Linked DNA regions of Homo sapiens: region 2 is linked to region 1. Evidence: fine-mapped QTL for protein levels in blood plasma. Region 1 holds a variant in brackets. A gene starts in the other region. All regions are shown on their forward strands.

The links. PIP is the chance, under the fine-mapping model, that this variant and not a neighbour inherited with it causes the effect. Protein levels are from antibody-based Olink assays in UK Biobank. Linkage for the fine-mapping came from a reference panel and not from the study's own genotypes, which makes the PIPs less certain.
Region 2: IFNL1 starts here. The variant in region 1 is fine-mapped to the plasma level of the IFNL1 protein (UK Biobank, PIP 0.98).

The regions. Positions count from the first base shown.
Region 1 is chr2:161,386,078-161,388,994 of GRCh38, forward strand. All of the region lies in intron 8 of PSMD14 (proteasome 26S subunit, non-ATPase 14), which reads left to right. Among named protein-coding and RNA genes, the nearest start is that of TBR1, 29 kb to the right of the region's middle. The variant G/C (reference allele first, on the strand shown) is at 1,281.
Region 2 is chr19:39,294,543-39,297,430 of GRCh38, forward strand. IFNL1 (interferon lambda 1) reads left to right here and starts at 1,865. Exons shown (of 5, transcript NM_172140.2): 1 at 1,865-2,050; 2 at 2,263-2,340. The coding sequence starts at 1,880.

The sequences.
Region 1 (2,917 bases):
TTTATGTCTTGTTTTTTATTGTGATAGTCAATTACCATTAATTGCAGTTACTGGTATTCAGACACTTAATATCCTCTTGAGTGATTGTTTTCTTTGTATCATTCACATGCCATGGTGTTTTTATACAAATCTTTATTTTCTGCAAAAATTATTTTAAATGTGTTTTTAAACGCACCACAGTCTGTGTCTATCTAGTTAATTACTACTCTAAAGATTAATTAAAAGGACAGAAATACCATGTTTGGTTAAGTAGAATACATAAAACAAAGACATTATAGTAGCTATTGCTGCTCCCTTCTGAAACCTTGCTCTGTCATGAGGTTGTCTTTGGGGAGTTGTGGCTTTGACAGTTAACCATGGTTAAGCCTTGGTTACACTTTGATAACTTTATACTTTTAAATGCTTAATTTTGGGGCAGTCACTCATCTGTAATCTTCATCAAAGTGAAGTGTTTTGTTTTAAAGGATTGAGGTGTGTTGATTTGAAAAAAAAAAATGCAAGTCAAGGAAAACTGCAAAGTATAATGTGTATGAAATAAGCTACCAGTGGTTTTGATTGGGTACAGACAAGCCTGTACTTGCATGTTCCAAGAGAATATATTATTGGACCTGTTTAGCCTTGATAATGACCTTTCTTATAAACTTCGGTAGCATCATACTGCTTCATTATTTTTTGCAAAAGGTTAAGTAGCATCTCACAAGCCAAGATCATTGTGATTACTACATGGTATGTTTCTGCCAGAAGTTTTTACTAATTGCAAGTCACTCACCACCTGTTGCAGATTTCTTTTTTAAAATTAAAGCACTGCTTTTTAACCTTAAAAATCGACTGTAATCAATATTAATAACGTGTTTTTTCTATACCAGTCCAGTTTGTATTTTTTAATCTTACCTTATAGCCTGTAATTTAAAGTGCACCTTATAAAGCAGGTTCCAAACCTGTGTTAAACAACATGTGTATGTAACAACTACAGCATCATTATTTTTCCTTTCATTTTAGTTTGTTTTGCCTTCCAGTTAGAACCTGTAAATATATTTATTTCACAGTTTATATAGCGCCTACCAGAATGACATCTATCTGGGTGCTCTACAGTTTTAAGACAATTTCAATACTAAAACACACAAATGAGACCAAGCCAACAAGTGACAGAACAAAGCCACACCTTAATACACTTTCTTATTTTTCTAAGACAAGCTAGAAAGCAACCCAGAAGAGCCTGAAGGGAATGGTAATATCTGTAATGGAATTTTATTTTATGTTAGCAGGATCTTTAACTCTGG[G/C]ATCAGAAACCTTTCAGAAATGCCATGCCTTTTATTTTGAAGGGGGAGTTAGCTGGTGTTAAGAGGGGCCTTGCTCCTAAACCAGCTTTCAAGTAGTAGGGATAAAAGTCTGATAACAGCCATCAGCTCACATGCTGGTGGTCACTAATGATTTTCTAACAGATTTTTTTTTACTCTTATACTTAGTAGTAGAGAAAAATTATGATTCACTGTAGACTGCTATTTAATAACTTGGGGAAAGTTCAAATATGTTAAGTAAGAAAAGATTATAAAACAGAATATATCAGTTCTCCATTCTGCAAGTGTATATTTTATAGATGGTGCCTATATATTTATACCAGGATATTAGCATTGGTTACCTTTGGATGGTAGAATTATGAGATTTTTTTGTCTTTCCTTGTCCATATTTCTTAAATTTTTTTACAGTGAAACATATATTGCTTTTAGAAAATGTTATTTTTTAAAGTACTACTTGACAGTGTTGAAATAAGCTAAGAGACAAAGGTTATTTTCACGTTCATGTTTTATATAATAGAAGCCACTAATAATCCTGATAGAGAGGAGAAAGTATAATGCCTATCCTCTAGGCTTTTATATTAATATATGATAATGTATATTATTTTTATTTTGCACTTGGAACATTTGGCTATTACTTTCAAATGTTTAGAATTGAGAGTTAACAAGCATTTATTTTAGTAACTAAATTTTTTAAACTATTCCATTATAAACTGTTCAGTGACATTTTGGATTCTTAAGTGTCACAGTAAATTTGAAGATTGGTAGTCAGTCTCATGGAAATTTACTAAATATTGATGCATAGATGCATGTGCTAAGGCTAAGAGCCTCTAAGTATAGTCTTGAGTACAGTTGCATTGTTTAATAGAGTTAAGCTATTTGGAAAACATTGTTTCAGTAATTACTGAACATATAAGTTATAAAACAATTGCACTAGAAAGGAGCCATTGTAGTCATTTAGTACATGAGGAAACCTGAGGCCCATAAAGTTGAGTTGCCCAGGTAATCCAGTGAGGTAATGTAGGAACTAGTACTCATAACCAGACTGCTTCATTCTTTTATATTATCATTGGAAATTTAATTAATTAATTTTGGCATAGAAAATATATATACAGTTAAAAAAATTTAAAGTACAAAGTCATTTAGCAAAAACTCTCCCTTCCTCTTTTGCCTTCTGCAACTCAGTTCTCCACTCTAGAGGGAACCACAAAACACATTTTGTTTCTTTTCAGTTATTCTATTTATATTCAAAAAGCTTCATTTTAGAACGTGATTTAAAGGATATCAGTTACCACCGTATTTTCAGTTTATCAATATAAAATAAATTAAGGCAAACAAATTTGTCTTTAGATCCAAGCACACCTTTTTAAGGAGCATGAAAACTTTTAAAAACTTATCAGGAACCCATGAATAGCTTATATATAATCCGTAAGCCGTGTGTTTTATAATGCACCTGCTTTTCCACAGCAGTGAGTGCATAGAGGTAAAATCATAAGTCAGTTGGTCTTGTGTAGTTCTACATGAACCCAAAAAGGACATGGCCGGTTGACTTATGATTTGGGAGGAAGGCACTGGGGGCACACAGCAGGTGAGTAAGTGAAATTGAAAGACTACTTGAGGAT
Region 2 (2,888 bases), not on the chromosome of region 1:
CTAGATAGAGAGAGAGAGAGAGAGAGAGAGAGAGAGAGACTAGATAGATGAGAGAGAGATAGGAGGGGATTTATTAGGGGAATTGGCTCAGACAATTAGGGAGGCTAAGAAGTTCCACAACAGGCCATCTGCAAGCTGGAGAACCAGGGAAGCTTGTAGTGCAGCTCAGTTCCAGAATAAAAGCCTCAGGACTTAGGGGGTAGCTAGTGCAAGTCCCAGCATTTTTTTTTTTTCTGAGATGGAGTCTCACTCTGTTGACCAGGCTGGAGTGCAGTGACATGATCTCAGCTCACTGCAGCCTCCGCCTCCAGGGTTCAAGCGATACTCCTGCCTCAGCCTCCCAAGTAGCTGGGACTACAGGCCTGTGCCACCACGCCTGGCTGATTTTTATATTTTTAGTAGAGATGGGGTTTCACCATGTTGGCCAGGCTGGTCTCGAACTCCTGACCTCAAGTGATTCACCTGCCTCAGCCTCCCAAACTGCTGGGATTACAGGCGTGAGCCACCATGCCCAGCTGCACATCCCAGCATTCAAAGACCAAAGAGCCTGGAGTTCTGATGTTTAAGGGCAGGTGCAGGGTGTCCCAGCTCATAAGAGAGAGCAAATTCTCCTTTCCTCTGCCTTTTTGTTCTATTCAGGCCCTCGGCCAATTGGATGGTGCCCACCACATTGGGTAACAACGGGTCTTCCTTACTCAGTCCATTGATTCAAATGCCAATCTCTTCTGGAAACACCCCAGAGTCATACCCAGAATTAACGCATCACCAGCTATCTGATAAACTTAACCAGTCAAGGTGACACCTAAAATTAACCATCACAATTATAAAAATAACTACTCAGAGAAACATTAGGAGCATGAACTGAAATTAGTTAATGGGACATTCTTAAACCAATGGCAGAAGCTCCTTCTTGGCCAGGAGCAGTGGCTCATGCCTTTAATACTAGCACTTTGCGAGGCTGAAGCAGGAGGATGGCTTAAGGCCAGGAGTTCAAGACTGGCCTGGGCAACATAGTGAGACCCCTATCTCTACAAAAATAAATAAATAAATAATAAAGTAAGGTGGTGGCTCACGCCTGTAATCCCAGCACTTTGGGAGGCCAAGGCAGGCAGATCATCTGAAGTCAGGAGTTCGAAGCCAGCGTGACCAACATAGTAAAACCCAGTCTCTACTAAAAATACAAAAACTAGCCAGGCGTGATGGCATGCACCTGTAATCCCAACTACTTAGGAGGCTGAGGCAGGAGAATCGCTTCAACTCGGGAGGCAGAAGTTGCAGTGAGCCAAGATTGCACCATTGCACTCCAGCCTGGGCAACAAGAGCAAAACTACGTCTCAAAAAATAATAATAACAATAAAATAAAAAACAAGCTTTTTTTTTTTTGAAACAGGATCTCACTCCATCACCCAGGCTGGAGTGCAGTGGCACGATCTTGGCTCACTGCAACCTCCGCCTCCCGGGTTCAAGTGATTCTCATGCCTCGGCCTCCTGAGTAGCTGAGACCACAGGCGCATGCCACCACACCTGGCTAATTTAGAATAAAAAAGAAGCTTCCTCTCTGCCACTCAGGTAGCCTTATCCCTAATCTCAGCCTCCGTCAGGGACTCCCTGAGGCCAGTTGGCTGAAAGCTGCCCAGGGAGTTCTAAGGATTTCAGTTTCTCTTTCCTTCTTGATGCAGCTCCCAGCTCACTTGGCCCTGCCCACACCTGTTCCCTCATCAGGCTCCCAGACGGGCCCCGCCCACTCATGCCTCTTAAGTCAAAGTGGAAATTCTCATTTCCAATTACCTTTTCACTTTACACACATCATCTTGGATTGCCCATTTTGCGTGGCTAAAAAGCAGAGCCATGCCGCTGGGGAAGCAGTTGCGATTTAGCCATGGCTGCAGCTTGGACCGTGGTGCTGGTGACTTTGGTGCTAGGCTTGGCCGTGGCAGGCCCTGTCCCCACTTCCAAGCCCACCACAACTGGGAAGGGCTGCCACATTGGCAGGTTCAAATCTCTGTCACCACAGGAGCTAGCGAGCTTCAAGAAGGCCAGGGACGCCTTGGTGAGTTCCTGTTGCTGTGGATGAACCACTTCTACGGGTGTCCCAATTACTGCCCTTCTACTGTGGGCTAGCCTCTAGCCTTCCAACTATGGCAAACCTCTATCCTTTCTGCACTGGGTTAAACCCATGCTGTCAGGCCAACTTCATCCTTGCTGCTATGAGCTAGCTTCCAGCCATCCTGCTGTGGGCTAACCCCTGCCCTTGCTCTCTAGGAAGAGTCACTCAAGCTGAAAAACTGGAGTTGCAGCTCTCCTGTCTTCCCCGGGAATTGGGACCTGAGGCTTCTCCAGGTGAGCTGAAAGTCAGGCCCCCTTCACCCTTCCCTTGACCCTCTCCCCCCTCTTCTTAAGTGGCCCCTTAGCCTTCTTTGTTTCCCTTGTCCTTCACTCTCTTGGACCTCTCCTCACCTGTCCTGTGCCCCTGCCACTTCAAAACTGCTCTCTTGACTCTGTCCTTCCCCTGGGTCCCTTTTATCATCTCCCATCGGCCCCACTTCCCTAGCTCGCTCACCTGTCCCTGTCACTTCCACTCTCACTCTTCATTTCTCTCCCAAATGTCTCCAGTCTGTCGCCCACCTGTGCCTTTCGTCCTGCTCCACTTCTCCCTGTCTGTTCCCAACACTGACCCCCTCTCCCTCTCACCTGCCTCTGTCACCTGTCCCTCATTATCTCTCACTGACATTCATCCAGCTCATGCTCCCCCCTCATCCACCCTTCTCTTTTTTTTTTTTTTTTTTTTTTTTTTGAGACAGAGTCTTGCTCTATGGCCCAGGCTGGAGTGCAGTGGCATGATCTCGGTTCACTGCAACCTCTGCCTCCCGGGTTCAAGCAATTATCCT